Regions from separate parts of the Homo sapiens genome. Here region 2 is linked to region 1. Evidence: fine-mapped QTL for protein levels in blood plasma. Region 1 holds a variant in brackets. A gene starts in the other region. All regions are shown on their forward strands.

Region 1 (8,560 bases):
TCTAAGCAGGGCATTTGCAGGGGACTGTCCCCACCTCACAGGCGGCTAGCAGCAGCAGTTTGAGCCTGTCAAGTGGGTGAGGTGGGGTTTTTCCCTCTTTCCTGCATTCTAACTGCTTTTTCTTCCTTTTCTCAACCTGTGTAGGTGGTAGCTAGTTTAAGCACCAAACCTAGCAGCCAATAATTAACTACACACACCTTCCATCATGCACAGTGCAAACCATGATGTCCTTCCTTCTGCAGGTGGCTCTTGCCATGCCCAAGGACCTCATCTTGGCCCCATGCCATTGAGAGAGTCCTAAGCTCCGACCAGCAAGGGCTTCCCTCTGCCTCTCAAGTGGAGGCACTCAGGGGCTGCCCGTTGTGGCCACACACCCTGTGAATGCATCACATGTACCCACATCACCATTCAGTCATCTGGGGCTGGGAATGGGATTGGGCCTCCACATGGAAAAAAGGGGATTCTTTTCTGGGGTATGACTGCATTTCCAAACCCAGTCCAGGATCAGTAGTGTCAGTCCTTGTTCTGAATTCCCATAACACAGCTGATAAAGAGTGGCAGAGTTCCCATAACACAGGTAATAAAGAGTGGCAGATAAAGAGTTGTGGGTGGGCTGTGGTTTGGAATCCAGCCCTGGCCCCTTCTAGCTTTCCCTCCACCTTCTCTTATCCTCGTAAGCTAGAGCCACACAGAAAGAAGTAAGAGTGTGGCTGGCAGTGTTCCTAAAATAAGTTGTTCAACAAATGTTTACTGAGTCCCTATTGTGTGTCAGGTAGTGTTTTTCTAGTACCTGGCTCACTTGAAGAGTATATTCTAATGTTTTTATATTTAATAAGGGAAAAGATTTGGAGGCTAAGGCAGGAGCATTGTTTGAGCTCAGGAGTTCGAGGTGGCAGTGAGCTATGTTTATGCCACTGCCCTCCAGCCTGTGTGACACAGCAAGACCCCAACTTTAAAAAAAAAAAAAAGTTGGGAGAAGAACTACTGGTGACATAGAAATCAGGTTTCAGACCTACACTTCTAGCAACAAATGGTTTTCTCTCATTCCTATGCCATTGAAGCCCGGGATACTTCACTCTCTTCACTCCTAGAGGTCCCCTGCAAGTGCCAAGCCTATGTCAAGTATTCTGCAAAGCTCAGCTCAAACCAACCCCCCAAATTATTGGTAACAATTATCCCTCCTAATGAGCTTCAGTTTTGGAAAGGGATCTTTGAGGCATAGGGCTAACTTTTTAACTCAAAAAAATATATATATATTTAGGCCAGGCATGGTGGCTCACGCCTGTAATCCCAGCACTTTGGGAGGCTGAGGTGGGTGGATCATGAGGTCAGGAGATAGAGACCATCCTGGCTAACACGGTGAAACCCCATCTCTACTAAAAATACAAAAAATTAGCCGGGTGTGGTGGCACATGCCTGTAGTCCCAGCTACTCAGGAGGCTGAGGCAGGAGAATCGCTTTAACCCAGGAGGCGGAGGTTGCAGTGAGCCGAGATCGCACCACTGCACTTCAGCCTGGGTGACAGAGCAAGACTCTGTCTCCAAAAAAAAAAAAAAAAAAAATTTCATGGTAGTATGCCAGGCTCCATAGTAAGTCAGCAAAAGGGTCATTTTGGTGGCTTTCTGGACGCAGCTGGCATGGTCCCTCTTCGGAAACATTTTTGAGTGCCTACTATGTGTCCAGCACTGTGCTAGGCACTGAGGGCACAAATATCCATAAAATGTGGCCCTCACCCTCAGGTAGCTCCTTGACAAATAGGTGAGACAGACACTTCAGCACCTTGGAGTGGGCTAAGTGCCGAGAGCAAAGGAATTTGGGAAGCTAGTGGAGCACTCAGTTGGGCACTCAACTCAACCTGGGTTTAGGGAAGACTCCCCTGAGGAGGTGATATTTGAGCTAAGTCCCCATGTCTCTGCAGGAATTTAAATTTAACCAACTGTGTGGGTTCCACTGTGCATGCTGGTGGTGTCGATGTGACACGTTGTGTTCTGACTTTTCCATTTATAGAGTGTTTCAGGTGCACTGATGCATGCCTTGAGAGCTGACTGCCAAAATAGGGGCCCCAGACAGCTGCCTTCCCAGGGGAGGGGTATCCAGAAACTTCCATTCTTGCTGTGCACATTTCCCCAGCTGACCTATAGCTGTCTTGAAATTATAGCATTCAATATTCCTTCCTTGGCTCGGAAGACTTTACGGGCCTTCCAGTAGTTAATGTCAAAGTTAGGTGTCTCTGGGAGGGAATGCAGCAGAAGCCATCAACAGCTAATAGTTGCTCTAGAATTATTCTGAAAGCATGGTGTCCAGGCCAGGGGCCAGGAGTAGAGAGGGAGAGGGGTGGTAGGGGATTAGGAGGGGGAAGGCAGAGGGGTTCCCTCTCTTGCCACAAACAGATCTGCTCTGCTGTCTGTGCATTTACACTTCGCCTAGCTCCTCCACAAAGTTCTGCTATAAGGAGAAATGGGCCAATGTCTTTCCAATCCAAATGCCATCAGAAGCAAGCTCTACATGTGCCCGACTGCCTAAGAGGAGCATATGAGCGCACAGATGGCAGCAGTATATGAGGACATTACACCTGCTCTGCTCCTTGATACTTCATTGTCAAGCATCTAAATAAGTATCTAAATGGAGAACCAGCTAGGAAGTACAAATCCTGGTGTTCAGAAAAGCAGCGAGCCGCCCAGGCGTGGAGGGTGCAACGCTTTGGGGATGCCTACCCATGCGAGTCTAGCACGGCTTGCGGGTGGGGTGTTCCTTCTTGAATGATCTGTTCTCCATTTCCTCTGTGCACAGCTCTGGGGGCAGATTTCATTTCAGACTGCTTTAGAAGACAGGACAGCAGGAGAGGAAATCACTAGAGACAAAAGAAAATTAGAAGGATTTGGTAGAAGTCATATATAGGAAACTGAGAGCAAAATTTGGCTCTCGGAGACTAAAGTTAGTGGGAGGAGAGAACAGGGCCTGGCCAAGACTTATCATTTCACCATTTAAATAGAGATCAAGATGCTAAAGTTCCCAGGAGACATCTCTTTTGTGACTTGCCAAGAGCACGGAGAAATTCCATCAGGGAGCTTCTGAGATATGGATCCAGACTAGCAGACATTAACAGAATTACCAGGTGTCTAGGGGGATCCCAGACTTTTCAGCACACAGTGAGGGGGATGTAAACACTAAAGTTATATGGGAAGTCACGCTGGATGGATTGACGAAGGCAGCAAAGCCTAGCAGTCACACTGAAGCAGCTCCCTGCCGTCAACCAACCACATTTGCACCCTGATTAAAAACTGGAAACGTTAAGAGACTTGAAGATTTCTGCTCTCTGCACCTGCTTAACTCTTCCTCTTGCCCTTACTAAATTTTAGCTGCTTTCTTTTTGGCTAATTTCACAATGTTCAAAAGTCTATTGGAAAAAAAGAAACCCACAAAGCACCATAGATAAAAACTTTGAGATGGGGAAAAAGAAAAATACTGGTTTGATCTGCTCCCTTCCTCTCCCAGAACCCAGGAAAATGCCCAGTACACAAGAAGCAAGGAAGGGAAGGATAAAAAAAGGAGGGAGGGAATTAGTTCTGGATGAAATGTCAGAAAAATGGCCACCATGAAGGCCCCAGTCAACCAATCACTTCCTCTTCTTGGGTCTCCTGATGGAATGTTTTCATCTTTGGGAAAATCTTTCCACCTTTATCTCTTCTAGAACTGTAAAAATGACAGGATGAGCCAGGGCAGTGTCTCATGCCTATAATCCCAGCACTTTGGGAGGCTGAGGAAGAAGGATCACTTGAGGCCAGGAGTTCAAGACCAGCCTGGGCAACATAGATCTCTACAAAAAATTCTAAAAAGTAAATTAGCCAGGCAAGGTGGTACATGCCTGTAGTTCCAGTTATTCAGGAGGTTGAGGCTGGGGAATCACCTGAACCTAGAAATTTGAGGTTACATTAAGGTATGATTGAACCACTGTACTCTAGCCTGGGCAATACAGCAAGACTCTGTCTCTATAAAATAATAATAATAGTAAAAAACTGGAATTGGGATGGGAACAAGGCAACTTGGTGTGTTCCTGAAAACCTTGCCTGATGGAAAGGGCAGCTAATAACAGCCTATTGATAATTGATTAATGTGTTACATTTTGAAAGTACACAAAACATAACATTCAATATCAGGATTAAGATTTATTACATAAGTGAGACAAACCTTCTATTAAAAGTGGAAGGCTCTCAGATTGGATGAAAAATAACACCCAACCATACAATATATATTTCAAAAATGCACATTTTTCCCAGGAAGATGCTGGAGACATACTCATCCCTATTCCTTCTGCTAAGTCCAACTAAAAACACTGGACATTACGTTTAAAACAAACATAAAAGATTCTGAAAGGTAAGAACTAGAAAGTAGACCAAGCTAGGAACCTCAAGACCCAAAGAATGACACAGCAGGAACTCCCTGAATTTTGTTTGTGCCTCATACATTCCAGAGTTAGAGCTGAAGAAGCTGGCAACCTGGAAAAAGCTAACGCACACAAAG[G/GA]AAAAAAAAAAAAGAGAGAAGAAGGGGTAGAAGAAGGAGGAGGAGGAGAAGGAAGAGGAAGAGAGAAAGGAAGAAGAGGAGAAGAAGAGGAGGTAAATGAGGAGGAGGATAAGGAGGAGAGGAGGAGAAAAAAATGAGGAGAAGAAAGAGTAGGAGAAAGAGAAGAAGGAGGAGGAAGAGGGGAAGGGGTAGGGGAAACAGAAGACTCCTCCTGCCAGGCAGCACAGAAAAATATGTGGTCCCACCTTCACCCATGCCAGGAAAGGCCCAGTGGGGAGTGCAGACTCCACACTCACGAGACTACAATGAGGCAATGCAACCTCACCACTATGGTTGTCAGAGGAGGCCTAGTAGGGAGCTGGGGTTTTCATCTCCACTTGGCAGTAATGAGGCCTCCCTTCCCCTCCTGCCTCACTACAGTGACACTGGAGACCATCTGGGGAGCCTGGACTTCTTCCTCTACCCAGCAATAATAGGTCAGTCTGCCCCCTCCCCACTGCGGTGGTGTCAGAGAAGGCCAAATGGGGAGAGTCAAGACTTTAACCACTGGCTCCAATAGTAATGAGGCCACCCCCTGGTAGCGTCAGTGGAGACCATCTGGGGAGCAGAAATTAGGGACCTCTACCCTTCCCAACCAGAGTGGGATCAGCAGGGGCCTAGTGGGAGCCAGCACCCCACCCCAGCAGCAACGAGGAGCATCTCCCAACCTTGGTGGTCACAGAGGTTGCAGTGTATCACCCTCCCCTGATGGTGCAGCATCACAGGATGTTACCTAAGACAAGGTTTAAATAAGATCCAGAATTTCATCATAGAATACCAAAATGCATAGTTTTCAATCAAAAAATCACTCACAATACCAAGAACCAGAAAATATCAAACTGAATGAAAAAAGCCATCGGTAGACACTAATATCAAGATGACAGTGATGCTAAAATTATCTGGAAAAGGTTTTAAAGCAGTTATTATAAAAATGCTTCAATGAGTAATAGTGAACATACTTGAAACAAGTGAAACAATAAAAAATCACCAATAAAATCATCTCAGCAAAGAAACAGTAAATATAAACAACCAAATGGAAATGTTAGAACTGAAAAATATAACAACTGAAATAAGAATCTCAGTAGATGGGCTCAACAGCAGAATGGAGAGAACAGAGGAAAGAATAAGTGAACTGGAAGATACAATAGAAATGACTGACTCTGTACAACAGAAAGAAGATGGAATGAAAAACAAAGAGAGCAGAGCCTCAGGGACCTGTGGGACTATAACAAAAACTAAATTTATATCATTTGGGGTTCCAGGAAAAGATAAAAAAAGAAGATGGAGCTAAAAAAGTACTCAAAGAAATAATAATTGAAAAATCCCCCAATTTGACAAAACCCATAAACCTACGGATTCAAGAAGTGAATGACCAATAGGATACATCAAAGAAATTCACACCAAGACACATCCTAATTAAAGTTCTGAAAACTGAAGACAAAGAAAGTCTTAAAAGCAATGAGAGAAACAACATTTTATCTCTAAAGAGAAAACCAATTCAAATGACAGCATATTTCTCATCAGAAACCACAGGGGTCAGAAGAAGTGATACAACATTTTTAAAGTGTTAGAAAAAAAGGAACTGTCAACCAGAAACCTATGTCCAGTGCAAATATCATTTAGGAATTAGGAGGAAGTCAAGCTATCCTCAGATTAGCTTGATTACCCAAATAAGTACACTAACAAAGTGGAAAGAAGTTCTCTAAACAGAAGGGACATGATGAAAGAAGGAATCAAGAATCATCAGGAAAGAAGAAAGAATTCGGTAAACAAAGATGGTAAATTCAATTAGCTCTCCTTCTCCTTTTGAATTTTCTCAATTATGTTTGATAATTGAAGTGAAAATTATAACACTGATGTGATTCTAAATAGATGTAGAGAAAACATTTTAGACTATTATAAACAAGGGAGGGCAATAGGATGTAAAGGATGGTAAACTTTCCACACTTCAAACTGTTGATGCACGTAGACCATGAAAAGTTATATATACAAAATGTAATACCTGGAGTAACTACTAAAAAACTACTCAGAGAGATGCACCCCAAAGCACCATGTATAAATCAAAATAAAACTCTAAAAAATGCCCAAGTCATGCATGGTAAGCCAAGGAAGAAAAAAAAGAAATGAGAAAACAAGGAGAACAAACAGAAAACAAGAAATAAAAAGACAGTCTGAAACTTAATATATTAATAATTATATTAATTTTGAATAATGTAAAGGCAAAAATTTAAAGACAGATGGTCAGAGTGGATTAAAAAACATGAACCAATTATATGCTGTGTATAGGGTGATATAGATAGGTTGAAAGCAAAAGGGTCAAAAATAACACATCATGCAAATATTAATTAAAAGATAGCAAGAGCGGCTATATTAATATCAGATAAAGTGACATCAGAACAAAGAAAATAATTGAGACATAGAAAGACAGTCTATATTAACAAAAGTGTCAATCCACCAAGAAGATAGGGCACTGCTAAAGGTATGCACCAAACATGACAGCTACAAAATATGTGATGTGAAAACTGATAGAACTAAAAGGAGAAACAGACAAGTCTACAATTACAGTTACAGACTTCAACACTCCTCTCTCAACAATTGAGAGAACAACTAGACAGAAAATCAAAACACATAAAAAATCTTAACACCCTTAGCATATAGGATCTATGGACATTTTTGGAACACTCTACCCAACAACAGCAGAATGCATTATTTTCAAGTGCCCAAGAACATAAACCAAGATGGACTGTAACATGGAACATAAAGCAAACCTCAAAAAATTTAAAAACCTCAAAAGAAATAAAAATACGTTGAACAGAATGAAAATGAAAATACAACACGTCAAATTGGTGGAACATAGCCAAAACAGTGCTGAGAGGGAAACTTACAGCTTATTTTAAGAAACAGAAAAGTTTCAAACCAGTGACCTAAGCTCCCACCTCAAGAATCTAGAAAATATAAAGAGAAAAATAAATGCAAAGAATGCAGAAGTAAGTAAATAATAAAGATAGGAGCAAGAATCAATGAAATTGAAAACAGAAAAATAATAGGGAACAACAACGAAACAAAGAGCTAGATCTTTTAAAAGATCAATAAAAGTGACAACCCTCTGGCAAGACTAACAAGAAGACACAAGCTACTAGAGTGAGACAGATTATATTAGTATATACTCTGTGCACATCAAAATGGTAGTAAGATAATACTAAGGAAAATTCTATGCCCATAAATTTGACAATTTAGATGAAATAGACTATTATTCGAAAACACACAATACCACAGCTTTCTCAACATGAGATAATTTGGATAACCTTATAACTATTGAGTAAATTAAATTCACAATTTTAAAAATTCAGAAAAAGAAAATTCCAGGCCCAGATACTTTCAGTGGTTAATTTAGAGAAGAATATCCATCAGTTCTTCACAATATTTTCCATAATGTAGAAGAAGAGAGAACTTTTACCAATTCATTTTTTGAAGTTAGTATTCTCCTGATACCAAAATCAGACAAAGACAGAACCAAAAAGAACTACAGACCAATATACCTTATAAACATAGACATAAAAAATCCCTAACAAAATATTAATGGGTAGAATTTAGCAATATATGAGAAGAATTATACACTGACCAAGTGTGGTTTGCTCTGAAGACGCAAGGCTGGTTCAATTTTTACAAATAAACCAATCTAATTCTTCATATTAACAGGAAAAAGAGAAAAAAAAATCACATTATCATTCCAATTGATGCAGAAAAAAGCATTTGACAAAATTCAACAATTACTCATGATAACAACTCCTAGACAAATAGGAAGAAAGTGGAACTTCCCCAACTTGGAAAAGAGTATCTACAAAATTCCTATAGCTAACATTATACTTAGTGGTGAAAAATTGAATGCTGTCCCCCTAACACTAAAAACAAGGCAAAGTTTGGTCTTACTATTTCTATTCAATGTAGTACTAGGAGTTCTAGCCAGTGCAATAAGGCAAGATACAGAAATAAAAGACAT
Region 2 (8,466 bases), not on the chromosome of region 1:
AAACGAAAGAATCTCTCGTCCAGATAGCCATTATCTGATAACTGTCTTGTCTGCATTTTCACTCTCTTTCAGAGTTGGTTTGCTCTCTTCAGGAGTGGGAATTAACTTTTACTCATGGTGACAAGGTAAACAAGTTTTCCGTGGGTACTCTAAAGCGTTGCATTTCTGTTTTGTTTATGTGCCTTGTTTGGCTACAGTAGTTACTGTGCCTCTGTCTCCTAGGCAACACTGACACATGATTTGATAGGAAGTAAGGCCTGAGGAGTACCCTCTCCCCACTCACTAGGCAATAGCAGCAATTCTCTGCCCTTAGAGAACCGCCTTAGCTCTTCTCTGCTTTGTGAGCAGGTCTGGTACCCTCAAGTAAATATGTGTGGGGGATGCGTTTCTGGGTGTGATAAATTGCTGCTGTCTGTCACCTGAGATCATCCTACACAAATTGTAACAATGGCAGTGTTGGTCTGTGGGTGCACCCAAGACCACCTTCCTCACGTCACATCCATTTTACCACCCAGCTGTCTTCAGAATGCTTCAATTTCAGCAAACCTCCTTGGCTTTTCCTGTCCTTTGTTCCATTTCTGTTTGATTCCTTCTGGGGAATTTCGAGGTGGCTAGCTAGCAAAGCTGGCTTTAAAAAAGTAGCTTAGCGTGTGAATAGATAAGAGTAGTGCTTATTGTATGACCCACGGCAGAGAGTAGTAAGTAGTTGCCTTTGGAAGGAGACCTTCAGTCTAGCCTAAGCGATGAGTGATGCAGGATTCCCTGTCTCCTTAGGAGCTGACTGGGAGAGTCTCAGACAGAGCAGATGCAGAAAGATGGTGGCCCAGGTTGGATCAGTGGTTCTGTTTGTGAGATGAGAGACAGGCTTCCTGGAGGCAATTTCCAAAAGGCTCAGTGTAGAAGCTGTGCAAGTACAGTCAGCGTGTGTGCCTGGGGTTCCCAAGGTGACCATTTTAGCAGTTGCCAAAATGAAACCGGAGCAATTGTTATCAGGTTGAAAATTGTTGTCAGACCTGAAAAATGTGATTTTCCTCGGGGAAAGGGGAAGTAAAACAAGGAACAGAGAGAGATCCATTTATTTGCTAAGAGGCACCCAGAAAAGTTTAGATATAGTATCAACTATCTGGCCTACTCTTTTAAGTCCTGCCCATCTGTTTATACATGTAACATATTTGTCACTAATGAAACCTTAAAAATACTTATTAATCATTGGGAAGACAGTAATTTCTGGCTTAAAAGCCTGCTTTAATGGCCTCTCTCCGTATATATATATGTATATTTTTTGAGATGAAGTCTCACTCTGTCGCCCAGGCTGGAGTGCAGTGGCGCAATCTCTGCTCACTGCAACCTCTGCCTCCCAGGTTCAAGCGATTCTCTTGCCTCAGCCTCCCGAGTAGTTGGGATTACAGGCACCCGCCACCACGCCTGGCTAATTTTTTGTATTTTTGGTAGAGATGGGGTTTCACCATGTTGGCCAGGCTTGTCTCAAATTCCTGACCTCAAGTGATGCACCCGCCTTGGCCTCTTAAAGTTCTGGGATTACAGGTGTGAGCCACCACACTCAGCCAATGGTCTGTATATTTCTTACATTCATTTACTCAAATATTCATTGAATGCACCTATGCACTATGCTAGGCGCGGTGAAGGGTATAAAGAAAATTAGATCTGGCTGCTCCTTCCATACCACCTTCCTGGGTATATGATCTTTAATTAACTACGCCAATAAAAACAAACAAACAAACAAAGCAAACACATGCTCATACAGAAACACTGTCTCTATGTTTCTGTATAAGCACAAACGAAAAAATGAGAGGCAGGGACTTTTTTTTTTTCTGGCGGGGGGTTGCGGGGGGGTTGTTTGTTTGTTTTGAGATGGAATTTCAGTCTTGTTGCCTAGGCTGGAGTGCAATGGCGCGATCTCAGCTCACCACAACCTCCACCTCCCGGGTTCAACCGATTCTCCTGCCTCAGCCTCCTGAGTAGCTGGGATTACAGGCCCCCGCCACCACACCCAGCTAATTTTTTTGTATTTTTAGTAGAGATGGGGTTTCACCACGCTGGTCAGTCTGGTCTTGAACTCCTGACAGGTGATCCACCCACCTCGGCCTCCCAAAGTGCTGGGATTACAGACGTGAGCCACTGAGCGAGGCCTGTTTGGTTTTTTATGGCAATAATTTAATTCTTTATAATAAAGTGTAAACGTCCAAAGACAGTATGATAGAACATGCTGGAAGAATTCACAAAAGTCGTTTTTTTAAAAAGTGAAATTAAATGTGTCTGCATCCTTTAAGCAAAACAATGTGAGTTTAGCCAAATAGAAATATGAATAGTAATAAAACGAAAATCATGGTTCAGTGGCTCTACCATGAACTTTGGTTAAAGGAGCTTATTAAAGGTATCAACTTCTAGAACTTGATTCCATGGAAATAATGGAAAAATGTAGATCAAGATTTATACAAAAGAGAGCAAAATTCATTGTACCTTTACAATAGTAAAATAGTAAAAGTACTATAGGAATGGTGAAGAGAAATATGTAACTGCTCAAGGTTGAAATATGTGATGTGGATGTCAAAAGGAATGTTTATCAATAACTTTTTTTTTTCTTTTGAGACAGGGTGGTGCCCTGTCACCCAGGCTGGAGTGCAGTGGCAGGATCTCGGCTCACTGCAGTCTCTGCCTCCTGGGTTCAAGTGATTCTCGTGCCTTAGCCCCCGGAGTAGCTGGGATTGCAGGCATGTGCCACCATGCCAGATAATTTTTGTATTTTTAGTAGGGAGAGGGTTTCACCATGTTGGCCAGGGTGGTCTCAAACTCCTGGCTTGTGATCCTCCCACCTTGGCCTCCCAAAGTGCTGGGATTACAGGTATGAGCCAATCAAGAACTTTTAATAACATAGGGTATTATGAAAAAATGTTAAGTAAAAACAACAGGAGGGTATACACACATGTAATTTTTTTTTACAGTCTTATTTTTGGTCAGAAGATCAGACTAACAGGAATAGTTATCTCTAAGTGGTAGGTGTATTAGTCAGCTATTGCTACAGAACAAGCAACCACAGAACCCTCAGTGGTAAACTGTGATAGGCATGTATTTGTAGCCCATGTGTCTGAGTTTTGACTGGGGTCTGCTTAATCTTGGGCTGGGATCCAGATCACAAAGTGAGTTCAGATTTGTTCCAAGTATCTGCCATTCATTTGGAACCAGTGGCTACCCAGGGCATAATCTTTTTATGGTGACAGCAAAAGTGCAAGAGAGCAGGACCAACTGCACAAGCACGCATCAAGCATCTGCTCATGTCACATTCCCTGACATCTCAAGAGGCTGAGCAAATTGCATGGCCAAGCCCGGAGTCAAATGGACGAAGCCCAAAGTACATTCCACCATGATAAGGCCATGATAAGGATGTGGACATGGACAACTCCTAGTGGGGAGTGAAGAAATGGGACCAACAGTTCATTCTACCACGGCAGGGTTAGTGTTTCTCTTACTTTTATTCTGTGTTTCTATATTTACAAACGTTTTATTCTGTACAAATGCAGGCAGAAAAAGTTATTTTAAAAAATATTAGAGACATACAGATCAATTTAATAGAATTGAGAGTCAAAAATAAACTCTCGCATTTAGGGTCAATTGATTTTTGACAAGAGTGTCAAGACAATTCAGCGGGGAAAAGATCAGCCTTTCAATAAGTGGTGCATATCCACATGCAAAAGAATGCCTCGCAGCATAGACAAAAATGAATTCCAATGGGATCAAAGACCTAAAAGTAAGAGGCAAAACTATAAAATTCTTAGAAGAAAACATAGGCATAAATCTTCATGACCTTCATTTTGTTTCTTTCTTTTTTTTTTTTTTTTTTTTTGAGACAGAATCTTACTCTGTCGCCTAGGCTGGAGTGCAGTGGTATGATCTCAGCTCACTGCCAACTCCCCTGCCTCCTGGATTCATGCGATTCTCCTGCCTCAGCCTCCCGAGAAGTTGGGATTACAGGCGTGTGCCACCACACCCGGCTAAGTTTTATATTTTTACTAGAGATGGGGTTTTGCCATGTTGGCCAGGCTGGTCTCGAACTCCTGATCTCAGGTGATCCACCCACCTTGGCCTCCCAAAGAGCTGGGATTACAGGCATGAGCCGCCGCACCTACCCAATGGTTTCTTCAATAAGATACAAAAGCAGACACAACAAAAGAAAAAAATAGATAAACTGGATTTCACCAAAATTAAAAGCTTTTGTGCTTCAAAGGATACCATGAAGAAAGTGAAAAAAGACCGGATGCAGTGGCTCACGTCTCTAATCCCAGCACTTTGGGAAGCCAAGGTAGGCAGATCACCTGAGGTCAGGAGTTTAAGACCAGCCTGACCAGCATGGTGAAACCCTGTCTCTACTAAAAAACACAAAAATTAGCCAGGTGTGGTGGCAGGTGCCTGTAATCCCAGCTACTCAAAGGCTGAGACAGGAGAATGGCTTGAACTCGGGAGGCGAAGGTTGCAGTGAGCTGAGATCGTGCCACTGCACTCCAGCCTGGTCAACAGAGCAAGACTCTGTCTGAAATAAAATAAAATAAAATACAAGGAAGTGAAAAGACAAGCCACAGCATGGGAAAAATATTTGCAAAGACATATCTGACAAGGAACTTTTATTTAGAATATGTCAAAAACTCTTAAAACCAAACAATAAAAAGAAAAATAACCCACTTTAGCCTGTAATACCAGCACTTTGGGAGGTTGAGGTGGGAGGATAGCTTGAGCCCAGGAGTTTGAGGCTCTGGTGAGTCGTGTTCGTGCCACTGTACTCCAGTCTGGGTGACAGAGCAAGACCTTTCTCAAAAAACGAAAGAAAGATAGAAAGAAAAAAGTAAAATAACCCAGTTTAAGCATGGGATAAAGAATTTGAACAGACATATCTCCAGAGAAGATGTACCAACAGCAAAGGTGCCTAGGAACATCTGCTCCATATCATTAGCTATTGGAAATGCAAATGAAAACCACACTGAGATACCTCTTCACACCCACTCCAATGGCTGAAATGAAAAGGACAATAACAACTGTTGATGAAGATGTGGAAACACTGGAACCCTCACATACTGTTGCTGGGGAGGTAAAGTGAGGTGGCCAATTTGGAAAACAGCCTGGCAGTTCGTCAAAAGGTTAAATGTGGAGTTCCCATACGACTGAGTAATTGCATTCCTAGGCAAATACCCACCCAAGAGAGTTAAAATCATGTGTCTACATAAAAATTTATATGTGAATATTCACAGAAGAATTAGTTATAATGGCCAAAGAGTGAAAACAGCCCAAATGTCCAGCAACTGATGAATGGATAAAGAATATGTGGTATATCCATGCCGTGAAATATTATTCAGCCATCAAAAGAAGCACTGATACTACAACATGGATGAACCTTGAACACATGAAGCTAAGTAAAAGAAGTCAGTCACAAAAGATCACACACTGCATGATTCCACTTATATGAAATGTCCAGGATAAGCAAATCTATAGAGATAGAAAATAGATTCATGGTTGCCTAGGGCTGCCGGGGGATGGAGGGAGTTTGGGAAAAATAAGAAGTTACTGCTAATGGGTATGAGATTTTCTTCTGGGATAACACAAATATTTTAAATTGATTGTATTGATGGTTTCCAACTCTGTGAATATATTACAACCATTGACTTGTACGCTTTGAATAGGTGAATTTTATGATATGTAAGTTATATCTCAATAAAACTGTCATTAAAAAATACCCTAGCAGGATTAGATACCCTCAAAGGATTGAAACAGAATTCTGGGTAATCGTTAGAAAAATTCTAGTGTAAAATCAATCTGTTGAGTTATCCCATGTAGCTAAAATTAAAAGCATATCTTTATTCAGTAAAGAATTTCAGTAGCTTAAGCTTTTTTCAGTTCTTTAGTCCTTTTTTCAGTTCTTTAGTCAGAGACCAGTTCTTTGCTCTGAAAACCAGATACAGGAAATCAACCAGAATGTGTAAAAACAATAGCAAAAACTACACAATTAAACTTCTTCTTCTTATTATTATTATTATTATTTTGAGATGGAGTCTCTTTCTGTCACCCAGGCTGGAGTGCAGTGGTACGATCTAGGCTCACTGCAACTTCTGCCTTCTGAGTTCAAGCTATTCTCCTGCCTCAGCCTCCTGAGTAGCCAGGACTACAGGTGTGCGCCACTACGCCCGGCTATTTTTTTTTTTTGTATTTTTTAGTACAGATGGGGTTTCGCCATGTTGGCAAGGCTGCTCTCGAACTCCTGACCTCAGGTGGTCTGCCCACCTCGGCCTCCCAAAGTGCTGGGATTACAGGCATGAGCCACCACACCTGGGCTAAACTTATGTTGTTAATGTAGATTAATGTCCCATTTCAGTCAAAAGAGAAGCTACCATGTTCCTGGGACTGTCAGTTGCCTTATACACACGATCACATCACAGCTCTATAAACCTCTTTTACAGATGAGTATACTGAGGCTTAGAGAATTTACATAGCACAGACTCTTTGTGATGCTCTCCAAATTCACATTGCCTAGAATGTCAAAACCTTAATTCCATGATTGTCATAATTATTATTTTCACAAAACAGTACAATTGTTTAACTTGGACTGTCTGATTTGATGGTGGTGAGTGTGGAGTTCCTCTTGAGAAACTCCTGATTATTTCAGAATAAGTCTGAATGTGATGTTATTTGGGAAGATCACTCTCTCTCTTGTCTTTCCCTCAAGTGTGCATTAAACTGCTGCTTGTATTTGTCTATTTAACATTATATATATATATATGTTATATATATATATTTATATATATATGTTATATATATATATTTATATATATATGTTATATATATAAAATATGTAATTTTTTTGAGGGTCTCACTCTGTCTCCCAGGCTGGAGTGCAGCGGTGCAATCATGACTCACTGCAGTTCGAACTCCTGCACTCAAGCGATTCTCCTGCTTCAGCCCTCCAAGTAGTTACGACTACAAGCGCACACCACCATGCCAGGATAATTTTTGTATTTTTTGTAGAGAGAAGATTTCGTCATATTGCCCAGGCTGGTCTCGAACTCCTAAGCTCAAGTGATAAACCCGCGTTGGCCTCCCAAAGTGCTGAGATTACAGGCATGAGCCACCATGCCTGGCCTCATTTAAATTTTATATCATACCAAATATTATGTTTATATCTCTGTCTCCACCACAGAGATGGCCAGGTGCAAGTCTCATACCTCCGATCTGAATGTAGATTAGACAATAGGTCTTTATTTTATCGAGCTTGGTTTTGCCAGAATTCATCCTAGTATCCAGCACACAGAGGAGGTCCTCGTGCTTTAAGGAAAGAGGGTTTCTGTTTTTGTAAAAGGGAATTCCATTTGAACCTATATTTTGAAGGTAAAAAATGCAATGGAGAACATCACAAGGAAACTGAATTAGGCTCCTCTTGATTCTGATCTGAGGCTGCTGATAATTCAGAATTTTGAAGGTGATTATTCTCAGTCTTTACCCTTGGGCCTTTGTTCTTTTAACTATTATTGAAGTCTCATCTTTTAAAATTAATGACCCGGTATGACATTTCAGAGCAGCTAAAATTGATTTGTCTATTTACTTACCTCTTTTAAAAGTAAAATAAAATTGCATTTGTGTGTAAAATCCCCCAGCACCAATGAAAATTGCGATTCTACATTTGCTGAGAAATATCTTTATTTGTCCTCTGGGAGATCTTAAACTTTAGTTGCCTTCTATTAAACTTTTATGAGAACAAAACTAGCAAATGACTTTTTCCCCAAACAGGTACTTTTGGTTGTTTCAAAGAAAGAATACATTCTTGAAACAGAACTTGTTCTTTTAAACAAATTACTCAGTGTCACTTACAATGAAAAGTGAGGGTGGGGAGGGGTGTGAATAAATTGCACAATATTAAAATTAGGTCATATTTATGTTTTTTCTGACTTGTCTAAATATTGCCTCAAATATCTTCCCCAGGAGGCCTAAAGTGCTATAATTTAAGTTTTTTGCAGAGACAGAGTTACACTATGTTACCCAGGTTAGTCTCAAACTCCTGGGCTCAAATGATCCTCCTGCTTCAGCCTCCTTAAATGCTAGGATTACAGGTGTGAGCCACTGTGCCCAGCCTAACCCATATTTTTATGGAAAGCATTATTTTCCCTTCACTGTCCTTTTTTATTTATTTTTGAGTTGGAATCTTGCTAGGTTGCTGAGGCTGGAGTGCAGTAGTACAATCATGGCTCACTGCGGCCTCAATCTCCTGGGCTCAAGTGACCCTCCCACCTTAGCCTCCCAAGGAGCTGGGACTACAGGCTTGTGCCACCGCACTTCGCTGCTTTTTTTAAAAAAATCTATTTTTAGTAGAGACAAGGTCTGGCCATGTTCCTGGTGCTGGTCTCTAATTCCTTAGCTCAAGTGATCCTCCAACTTTGGCCTCCCAAAGTGCTGGGATTGCAGGTGTGAGCC

Alleles and levels. Alleles are on the strand shown, and positions count from the first base shown. The strength of an association depends on the size of the effect and on how common the allele is.
As copies of GA replace G in region 1, the plasma level of the protein whose gene starts at base 176 in region 2 goes down (weak association).

The links. PIP is the posterior inclusion probability: the model's chance that the variant is causal. The UK Biobank Pharma Proteomics Project read protein levels with antibody pairs (Olink). The fine-mapping took linkage between variants from a reference panel, not from the people measured, so its PIPs are less certain.
Region 2: it holds the start of IL5RA, and the variant in region 1 is fine-mapped to the plasma level of the IL5RA protein (UK Biobank, PIP 0.96).

The regions. Positions count from the first base shown.
Region 1 is chr2:111,055,247-111,063,806 of GRCh38, forward strand. All of the region lies in intron 16 of ACOXL (acyl-CoA oxidase like), which reads left to right. Among named protein-coding and RNA genes, the nearest start is that of ACOXL-AS1, 56 kb to the right of the region's middle. RefSeq lists an enhancer at 2,049-2,248. The variant G/GA (reference allele first, on the strand shown) is at 4,522.
Region 2 is chr3:3,110,199-3,118,664 of GRCh38, forward strand. It overlaps IL5RA (interleukin 5 receptor subunit alpha), which reads right to left and starts at 176. Exons shown (of 12, transcript NM_175726.4): 1 at 1-176.